Linked DNA regions of Homo sapiens. The protein of the gene in region 3 interacts with the protein of the main gene of each other region in a pairwise test. Each region holds a gene or a part of one and is shown on either strand. Other genes may lie near its edges. The genes, in order: BTBD9, ZNF292 and DCLK3.

Region 1 (3,755 bases), on a different chromosome or scaffold from region 3:
ATTAAAATTAAATAGCGCTTTTGGAAATATCTTGAGTTGTTTCTTGTGGGCAAGAGAGGGGAGAGGGCTGAACTCATCTCAAGAACCCATTCCTGAGATAATGAACCCATTCCTGCTATAATGGCATTCATCCATTCATGAGGGCCTAATCACTTCTTATTGCATGGGGGAAGTGATGAGGCAGGAAGCTGTTTTTGGAGCCAAATTATGAGGGGGTCTTCCACTTCATCCTAAAAAGTCTAGACTCCTCCCATCCATTGGCAGTGGAGAGCCATAGAAGGTAGAATAATCAGAAAGTTGACAGTTCGTGTGCAGATTGCATTAGAGTAGAGAGGCAGGGAGACTAGAGTGTAGGTGAGAAATGTTGGACAATGGGAATGGATAGATTTTGGAGACATTTTTAGATGTTAAAATCTCTACATTTATGACCAGCTAGAGGTAAGGGAGAGTGAGAAGTCAAAGATAATATGTCTAGTTTGAGCAACTGTTTGCTTATGATGACATTAAGTTAGAAATCACAGGAAGAGGAACAGGTTTGAAGTGGAGAGAAGAAATAATGGCAGTGTTAATTCTGAGGTTTCTGTGGGGAGTTTAAAAAGAGAGATCCACTAAGTAACTGGAAATGCTACTTCAGAGTTTATGAGATGGTTAGGGACAATTGTAATATAGATGTCCGCTGAGGCTGTGGGAGTAGCAACCTTCTAGGAGGCATGTTAGTATAGTAGTTAACTTAGTGGACTTTGGAGTTAGGAAGATGGCAGGTCAAATCTCTGTTATGCTGTTTATTGGTTGGCTGACCTTTGGCAAGTTATTTAACTTCTCTAAGCCTAGGCTTCTTATCTGAATTAAAGAATTGTGGAGATTATACATGTGCACAGTGATTAACACAAAGGTACTATGTGCACAGTGATTAACACAATGCCTGTCTTATAGATGCTTAATATAATAAATGGCAGCTGTTGCTGTTATTGTTAGTAGTAGTTATAGATGTAGAGATAGTAGGAGAGGCCCCAATGCCAGAAAAATGGAGAGTGAGAACTGGAAAAGATGGTGAATGGAACTTTTGGACGTTTAAATCAGTATTTAAACTTGGATCAGTTCTTGTCTTTGTTTTGTGCTGCTATTTCATATTTTATGTTTCATAATGGCAGCACAAAACAAACTAAGACAAGAACTGATCTAAGTTTAATTTATAAAGAACAGTCTGGTTAATTTATAAAGAACAGAAATTTATTTCCTGATAGTTCTGGAGGCTAGGAAGTCCCAGATCAATGTGCCAGTATCTGGTGAGGGCCTTCTTGCTGTGTCATAACATGGCAGAAGGCATCACATGGGTGAGAGAGAGAGGGAAGGGGGCTGAACTGATCATGTCAACCTATTCCCACTCTACTGGCATTAATTCATTCATGAGAAAAGAGTCTTCATGGCCTAATCACTAAAGATCCCACCACTCACTGCTGTTGCATTGGGGAATCATGTCTCCTCTAACACATGGAGGACACATGCAAACCATAGTAGTTCTAAAATTTGAAAATGCATTGGGTAGACCTGGAGGTGGCCAGGTGTGGTGGCTCATGCCTGTAACTCCAGCACTTTGGGAGGCTGAGGTGGGTGGATCACTTGAGGTCAGGAGTTTGAGACTAGCCTGGCCAACATGGTGAAACCCTATCTCTACTAAAAATATAAAAATTAGCTGGGTGGGGTGGTGCACACCTGTAATCCCAGCTACTCAGGAGGTTAAGGCAAGAGAATCGCTTGAACCCAGGAGGTGGACATTGCAGTGAGCCGAGATTAGGCCACTGCACTCCGGCCTAGGTGACAGAGCGAGACTCCATCTCAAAAAAGAAAAAAAAAAAGAAATAGCTGGAGGCTTTGGTAAAGCACAGATTTCTGGGTCCCACCCCCATAGTTTCTGATTAAGTAGGTGTGGACTGGGGCTTGAAAAATTGCATTTTTGAACAAGTTCCCAGGTGATGCTGATGGTGCTGTTAGAGGATAGATGAAAGAAAAGGAACCAGCACTAACAAAGTGGTTGAAGTGTATGGAGAACCAGGAGATAGTTTAGAGAAGAATAAGAATTTTAACAGCCTCCAGACTCTCTAGGTCTACCAGTCTGATTTCCAATTTCGTAGAGCTTATCTCATTCTTATTTTTGTTTTCTCCAGAATCTATTATAATGCCTGATACATAGCAATAACCTTTGAAGCTGCTTAATACTGTCCTGGTGCATGATGGCATGTACCTCACACACAGATTTCATTTATCCTCTTTTATCTCTGATGAGTCATGGGGAGGATATGATTTCTAATTTTACACACACACAAAATAACTACAGAAAATTTCTTTCATATATCTGGTGTGTAGCTATGTGCATTTGACTTTGTGTTAGATGCCCTCTCCCCCCCCTTTTTTTTTAAAAAAAAGGAACAATCCAGTTTGCAAAATAATTTTTAATAATATGTGCCAGGATTCCAGTCTGTGTCCTGTATTAGGCACATTGAGTCTTAAAAGGGAAGCAAATAATATATTCCCTGTTCCTGGGAAGTTTACAGATAAGATGGGTGAAATGAGCAAAACCCACAGGAAAGAAACAGGAAGAGGTATAATCACAGAAACATGGATGTAGAGAATCTGAATCTAAGGACATATTCTTTGCTTGCCAATATTCTTTGGGTTTTACATGTTTCATATACTGAAGACTTTTGGCATATAGCACACATGTTAGTCCTAGTGAGAGGAAGTTATAAGGGAGTTCCACTATATAAGGAAATAAAACAGTAGCTGTGCAAAATTATAAACACATTTGTAAAGGGAGTGAAATTGGAGTTAAATTGGAGCTTCATGACTGACAGCTTAGCTACTCACTATTCTGCCTAGGTGCTTGTTCTCTCTCATTTATCTCCCAGCTAACATTCATTAAGCATTTATAGTGTGCCAGAAATCGTGTGAAGTGCTGGGCATAGAGAAAACAATAATTGCCTTGTGCACCTAATTCTGGTTTTACTTGGGGAAAGGAATGTGCACACATGTATGCATATTGTCAGGGTGAAGGAGCCTGACTTTTATAATCTTAAGATTATATTGAAGGAAGAGACATTGAGGACTTGAAGTTAAATTCATTCAGCCTTATGTATTCAAGGGGCCATGACGAGTATAGGGATGGGGCCATGACGCGTATAGAGATGTATATTTTTTTTTTAGCAATCAAATTTGTAATTTGATAGAGGAGAAAGAACATATTTGGAGTAATAAAAAGAATACGATAAGTACTGTATAAATATTGATTACAGACTAGGTACTCTGGCTTCTTAAGCAGCTAAGTGTTCAGTTTTAACAGCAACTCATAAGCTATTGTAATGTTTCAGAAATTATAACATGTCATAAGTCCACATTAACCTCCTGGGCTGCCTTTGCATCTGAATATGAGACACAAAAATATTCTGGCAGTCTGTGTCCCTATTTTCTTGATTTGGGAAGTATATGCATAATGCATATAAGCAAAAGAGTAATTAAAAACAAGGTGCTATTTATCTAATGGCTACATTATGCAAGGCCCTTTCTATATACTGTTTCATCCTTGTAATGACAACCTTGTCAATTTGACATTATCTCCATTTTACTAATAAGGTAACTGAGTTCCAGAATGGGAACTGTTTGTCTGTAGCTTGTGGCCAGTGAGAAGTGGGACTGGGCTCCAGTACAGACCCAGGTGTGGACTCTGCAGCCTGTGTTCTTTTTACTTCATGCCAATTCCT
Region 2 (3,755 bases), on a different chromosome or scaffold from region 3:
CAAAAAACAAAACAAATCAAAAAAATTAGCCAGGCGCTGTGGCGAGTGCCTGTAGTCCCAGCTACTTACGAGGCTGAGGTGGGAGGATCATTTGAACCCGGGAGGCAGAGGTTGCAGTGAGCAGAGATGGTGCACTGTGCACACTCCAGCCCGGGTGACAGAGAAAGATCCTGTCTCAAAAAAATAAAAAATAAAAATAAAATTGTATCTTAGCAATTATCACCTAGCATTTTGATACGAAGTTGAGTGAAGCAATGGTTAACAATTAAAGAATTTATTGGCGCAATCTAAATATAGTACCAGGGATACTAGGAGCTAGAAATTATGTCTTAGTTTCTAACCTTGAGATTATTATTTAACTTTTTCTGTTTAAGCTTTTCCTGTAAAACTGGGATAGTCACACGCTTCAAGAAGGCAAAGATGAATAAACGTTTGTCAAAGTTAATGGGCTTCAGAATTAATATTCTGTCAGTGTTGATGCTCAGTGCTTGTGTAACCCTTAGTTTTGCATTTACTTTAAAAAATGAATTAGTTTACATTCTATGTAATTTTTATGAGCAAAAGTTCAGTTTCTGGAGAATGTGGTGAAACCCACAGAAACAGGAGTTGCTTATGATCCGTAGTTTATAGATTTTTATTTTTGAGTGAGGTAGAAGATTAATAGATTTTTTGAATTCTGAGTAGCAGAATAGAAACGAAAGGCATTAAATGTTTTTCTTATTAACAGTGTTGTTTTGCTCATTCTGGAAATAAGCCACCTGCCCCCCCTTTGCTTATTTAAATGAGAATTTGCTTAAAGCTTAAGTGGGAGGAGGGAAGAGTAAGTAGAGGATGGGCATAGTAGAGCGCCCGTCATAAATTTTAAATTTTTTTATATATTTTATTTTATTTTTGAGAGATGGGGTCTTGCTACATTGCCCAGGTATGATCATAGCACACTACAACCTCAAACTCTTAGGCTCAAGTGATCCTCCTGTCTCAGCTTTCTTTTCTTTCTTTTTTTTTTTTTTTTTTTTTAAAAAAGATGTAGTTTAACTCTGTCACCCAGGCTGGTGTGCAATGGCGCAATCTGGGCTCACCACAACCTCCGCCTCTTGGGTTCAAGCAATTCTCCTGCCTCAGCCTCCTGAGTAGCTGGGATTACAGGCATGTGCCACCATGCCCGGCTAATTTTGTATTTTTACTAGAGACAGGGTTTCTCCTTGTTGGTCAGGCTGGTTCCGCCCCTCTTGGCCTCCCAAAGTGCTGGGATTACAGGCGTGAGCCACCACGCCCGGCCCTGTCTCAGCCTTCTAAGTAGCTGAGACCTCAGGCATACACCACCATGCCCAGCTCTTAAATTTCCTTGTATCTTTTCAAAGTTAGCTTTAATATGGGCAATATAACCAACTCATTTTCTTAAAATTGACTTAGAATAAGTATATAGAATAACCAGAAGTAATTTCTTGCATTTACTTGTTTTAGGATTATTACTGTATTTATTATACAAAAATTGGTTATAATTGGAACCTTTTAGACTAGTTAATTGTATTAGACTGGGCCAGTAGTCACTCATTCAACATTTCTATTGAACATCTACTGTATACAGGCTAGGCAAGGATGATCATGGTCCCTGGCTTCAAAGAGTTTATAGTCTCTGGAGGAAGGTAGACAGATAATCGTAGTAAACTATGATTTATATATTTTATCACTGAGGTGAGTACAGTAAAGAGGGAGGTTATTTGGGAGTTTTAAAAGAAACATTCCAACAGAGGAGTTGTTCTAAAGAGATTTTAAAATAATAGTTCGTTGGAAAAATTGGCCATTGTAATAGTTGATTTGTTGGAGTATGATATTTGCTGACAGCACTATATACTGGACTGGCCGACTGGTTGATTGTAACTGTTATTGACCATTGATCAGTAGTGATCTGGTGGCTGACAGTTGTTTTGAAGGGTTGAATTACAGTCGTGTGTGTATGTGTATACATACGTACATGTGTTTGTATATATATGTGTGTGTGTGTGTGTGTGTGTATATATATGCAAGGACCTAGGTTTAGATGTTACAGAGGATATAAGATACAGGAGACTCTAATAAAAAAATATGTTTGTGTGTATATATACATATATACGATGTGTGTGTGTATACATACATGTATACGGTGTGTGTGTGTGTATATATACATATATATGATGTGTGTGTGTATATATATATATATAATTTTCTTAGTTCATATAAGCAGGGCTTCTCAACTGGGCATAGTACTTTCCCTACCTCCAGTTCTCTCTTTGATGGCACTTAGAAATATGTGGGATCAGGTTTTTGGATGTTGCTATGACTAGGGATGTGGTACTGGCATTTAGTGCCCATGAGCTTCAATGCTAAGTTTTCTGAAGTGATCAGGACCGTCCCAACAAATGAAAGCGTAATTCCTCTAAGTACCCTTTTCAGAAACATTGAACAGAAAGAAAAATAGTATATCTAGAAGATTTTTTTTTTTAGTCCTTCTACTCTTTTCATATTGAGATAGTTAAGCTCCAGAAATATACTTTATTTGGAACAGGTCCAGGTAAATGATATTCAACAATATTTAAGTATAATTTATACTGACCATGAGAGGTCAAGAAACTTTCTACTTTCTTAGCAGAAATTACAAGCAATTGCATAAACAGTTAGTAAAACAACTTTTGCTAGGTTAAAGAGGGTAGCAAATTCAGCATAATTATCCTGATTAAAGAAAAGATTTGACATTTTGATATAATAAATTCTGTACTTTTAAGAAAGCATTTATATGCAAGGACCTAGGTTTAGATGTTATAGGAGATAAAAGATACGGGCAACTAGTGGGATATAAATTAGTAAGATAATATTTAAATATCACTTCAAAATGACAGCTGAAAAGATGTCAAAAGGCAGTGTATTAACTAACAAATTGTTTTGCTTTATTTTTATTTTTTTGAGACAGGGTCTCCACTCTGTCACCCAGGTGGGAGTGCAGTGACACAGTCACGGCTCACTGCATCCTTGACCAACTGGGCTTAAGCGATCCTCTTGCCTCAGCCTGAGTAGCTGGGACCACAGGTGCACATCAACATGCCTAACTTTAAAATTTTTTGTGGAGACAAGATCTCCCTACATTGCCCAGGTTGGTCTCAAACTCCTGTGCTCAAGCAGTCCTCCCACCTTGGTCTCCCAAAGTGCTGGGACTATAGGCGTGAGCCACTGCACCCAGCCTGGTTTTGCTTTTTTGTTGTTTGTTTTGTTTTGTTTTAAATTGAAAATGTACTAATTGAAATGGTTTTTTAAAATTCACCCTGAGAAAGGGCATACAATGAAAACTTGATCTTTTTCCCATTCTAGAGTTCCAGTCTCATTTCCACAAAGACAAATCCCCTAATGGTTTCCAGAACTAGTTTGCTCTTTTTAAGAAAATAAAGATAACTACACTGTATCTTGCTTTCCCTCCCCCCAAAAGCATCTTCTAGCTCATTCCATAGCTGCTCATGTAAGTTTTTGGCTTTCCCTATTATAGTATATAGTAATTCTAGTCTATGGCTGGGTCTAATTAATCAGTTCATTATCAGTGGATATTTAGGAGAGTAAGTTAATTTTATGTATAGCAACTTAAAGAGTTCAAAGTAGGTAGTAAGCACTTCAGGCTGGGGTATCAGGGAAGGCTTTCCTGAGGAGGTACTATTTGAGCTAGTCTTCATTACCTTTGTTAGCCATTATTGGTGCCTGATTGGTATAAGAAATAAAAACCAAATTAAAAC
Region 3 (3,755 bases):
CAGAGATGGTTGATAATGGGCTCCTTGGTGATGCCAGGAATGAGAGCCAAGGACAGATTCTTGAGGAGGCCAAGAGCTCAGGGATGAGAGAAGGAAGGAGGGATCAGCAGAGAAAAGGCTGAGCAGCCCAGAGAGGATCTGAAAAGTGCATTGTCACAGAGGCCAAGGGACATTTCTAGGATTGATGAGGTCCAGGAAAATCAATCCCTCTCAACAGTGAGATGGTTGAGAACTGAGAAAAGACCAAAAGAGGTCATTAGTGACTTATTCTTTTAATATTTTCCTGCAGATTTGTATTTTGACAAACTTACTCTGGGGCTTAATTATGAATATCTAACTTCTAAATTACAGTGGTCAAGTGTTTTCTTTTTCTAACTGTAAAAAGTTAGTTAGAAAGTGTTTGAAAATGTCTATATTGCTGTGATAAGTTTTGGGAGGACAATGTGTAATATGTATCAAAAACCTTTACTGTATATTGCTTTGTCTATTTCATTGCTGGAAGGTTATTTTAGGAATATAATCAGACATGTGCACAAATATTTAATAAATGCTCATCAGAAAATTCCTTACAGCTGTAAAAAAATTAGTAAAAACTTAAATTACAACATAGGGATTTATTATGTAAAGGGGATACTAATAGTTATTAGAAATCATTTTTGTAAAAAATATTTTTGGTATTTTTCATAGGAAATTCTTATGTTGGAAATGTCATTGTATAATATTCAGTAAATAAAATAGAGTATAGGTGCAATGTGATCCTATTTTTATTTAGAAAAGTAAATAAACATTTTATTTAGAAAAGTATACATGTCTCTATATAGGTGTGTGCGCGTGTGTGTGTGTGTTGTATACCAGTGTGTGCACACATGGGGATACAGCTAGTAAACATCAGTCTTTTAAAAATCATTTAAAAAGCCAGTAAATGATATTTTTTAAGTGAGAGAGAAGACAATGGATATATAGGAAGCAGAGATTGCTAGTGTAGACTGGGGCTTCTCTAACTACCTCCAGTGAAGGGTCAAGTTTTAAAGTTTCCAGTACAGTGTGGACTCACGGTCCTGCTGCATGTGACTAGAACACATCTCATGCCACATGTGACTCACTACATGTGTTTGACAACGCCTGAACTGATGTATGTGCTGTTCAACAAGATGTGCCCTTCAATCATGCAACTGAGCGTCACAGTCTTGTTAAATTGCTATAAGAGTTTCCAAACACTTGCTTTCAATTTCTCTGCTCATTCTATTACAGACCAGTAATAAGGCATTGCAAAGTGGCAGTGATCCATGGACCACACTTTGAGTAATGATGGTGTAGAGTCCTTATGTATAGGAGTTAGCAGGGAGCTGTGTTTGGAAGTGGCTCTTGGTTGCTGAGAGCTGGGATCCTCTATGACTTAGATCTATTTAGAACCACAATACTCCATCATTTATTTCATCACCTTTGACCCTGCCTGGTCTCAGGTTTGCTTGTGTCTCTGCCTCTGTCTGCGCAGGTTATGGACTGGAGGTGGACATGTGGGCTGCTGGCGTGATCCTCTATATCCTGCTGTGTGGCTTTCCCCCATTCCGCAGCCCTGAGAGGGACCAGGACGAGCTCTTTAACATCATCCAGCTGGGCCACTTTGAGTTCCTCCCCCCTTACTGGGACAATATCTCTGATGGTGAGATTTGGGGCTTCCTCACACAGCAGAGGAGCGGATGGGTTTTTCAGGTCAGATGTGTAGAGGACCCACCACTGTGCCTGGTGCAGAGTTGGACTGTCAACATGTCATGTCTCAGCCTTTACTTCCTCAGTAGCTTCATGTAGGTTTGTGTAGCACTCTGAAAACATGGCTTGCTTTCAGATTTAGTGAAAAAGCCCAACCACCAGTTACAGTCACCAAGTACTTTTCCTTAAGGCAATTCAAGAACCTCAGAACAGAAAAATATCAGAAACATTGTAACTCCCCTTTGGAAAGAGAAAGGCCATCTTATATGCAGAAGTGTTTGTGAATGGAACAGACTGAAAATGCTTATTTTACACATGCATAATCAAGGGTCCTATAGCAGCACACTTGAAGCACAGGGGCTCTGCAATGAAGATCTCAGTTATTTTTTAGTGACTTGGAGCATGCATGGTCCTCCCTGCTTTTGGCCCTCTGTTCCATTTGATTCCAAATGAAATCCTTCCCCTTGTCTCTACTGATTTGTCTGTACTACTCACTGTCCTTGTAAAACTGGGAACTAGATAATTGGGGATTTTGAGTCTTTAGCTTAAAAAGTAGAATAGGAGGCTGGGTGTGGTGGCTCATACCTATAATCCTAGCACTTTGGGAGGCCCAGGTGGGAGGATTGCTTGAGACCAGGAGTTTGAGACCAGCCTGGGCAACTGGCGATACCCCTTCTCTACAAAAAATGAAACAAATTAGCCAGGGGTGGTCCCAGTTGCTCTGGAGGCTGAGGCAGGAGGACCACTTAAGCCCAGGAGTTTGAGGCTGCAGTGAGCTATGATTGTGCCACCACACTCCAGCCTGGGTGACAGAGACCCTGGTTCAAAATAAAAATAAAAATAAAGTAGAATAGGAGTGATAACATTTTGTTTTTCAATTTTCCCTAAACATGCTATTGAATTTTAGTTATTGAACTGCCTCCATCCCTAGCCTCTATTTCCTCACTGGGATTGGAGGATGAGGGAAGGGAAAATCTTCATTTTCCCCCCTTTAAATAAGGTAGGGAGAGGGTGGCTTGTCACAGTAGATGAGGATCTTGAGCTGACAAGGCAGTGGCAACTGGGAATTGAGGGACTAAAAATCATTTTAGAAAGTTCTATGCAGCACTCCTTAGATTTGGGCATGGGTGGCCCCTGTCCTGGGCCCTGCTGTAGTCACACCCTTCTCTACAGAGTGAGGAGAGTATGGGGCCTAGGGGATGTGCCCCCAGAGCCCAGGTCCCCTCTTCTAGATCACTTCCTTAGGGCCCCTGAATTCCCTGTCCAAATGGCCCAAGCCCACATCCAAGGTTTGTGAGACCTCTTTCCAGCCTCTTCCCACTATGCCATAAAGTGGCCAAGGAGTGGCCATCTGGAGGGGTTAGACAGAGCTTGGACATGTTGCCTGGGGTGTCTGGTTGTCCACACTTGTACACAAGAGTCTGAGGATTCTCAACTTAAATCTGGCCTTCCAGCCTCTGAGTCATTTGAGGACCCTGAGGGAGTGATGTGGCAGTGGTGGGGCTGGGGCTTTTTGGGGCAGAATTTTCCCAGCTTGAATTGGGTGGTGTAGGAGGAATCTGGGCCTTCTGTGCTCAGGAGGTGGCTGGACATCGGGGGAGGGGAGCGGTGATTGGTGGGTAAGCAGCTGGTCTTGAGTAAGAGACAGCCTTCAATAAAGGCAAAAAATAACAACAACAAAAAGTGGATGTTTTCTTCTTGTGCATATCTTGAGTGATTGGAAGAGCAGTCTCAATGAGCCAGGCTGGGAGAGCCAGCAAGCCAGGGGGAAATCTCTTCTGCTTTCTGCCTGCTGCTGGGCCCACCAGTTGGGCCCTCATTTCTCTAAAATCAGTCATGGTCTTGGGCAGAAAATAAAATTATTTTTGAATTTGCACTATTTACTTTTTAGATTTCTTTACACGGTTTTCAGTTTTGTCAATGTGAAGGCATATGTATTGACTTGGAAAGATTGAACATATTTTATTTAACAATGTGTTAGTTTCGATTTGAAACCTTAAAGTATGTAGATGTATAGCATGTGTTCTCCATTTGTTCCTTTGCCC

Evidence for each region.
Region 1: the proteins of DCLK3 (region 3) and BTBD9 interact in a two-hybrid assay, tested with the Homo sapiens proteins (one study listed by IntAct).
Region 2: the proteins of DCLK3 (region 3) and ZNF292 interact in a two-hybrid assay, tested with the Homo sapiens proteins (one study listed by IntAct).

Annotation. Positions count from the first base shown.
Region 1 is NC_000006.12:38,633,237-38,636,991, reverse strand, and holds part of BTBD9 (BTB/POZ domain-containing protein 9), read left to right. Parts: intron 1-3,755.
Region 2 is NC_000006.12:87,158,500-87,162,254, forward strand, and holds part of ZNF292 (zinc finger protein 292), read left to right. Parts: intron 1-3,755. UniProt on the Homo sapiens protein: May be involved in transcriptional regulation.
Region 3 is NC_000003.12:36,715,918-36,719,672, reverse strand, and holds part of DCLK3 (serine/threonine-protein kinase DCLK3), read left to right. Parts: intron 1-1,495; coding exon 1,496-1,663; intron 1,664-3,755.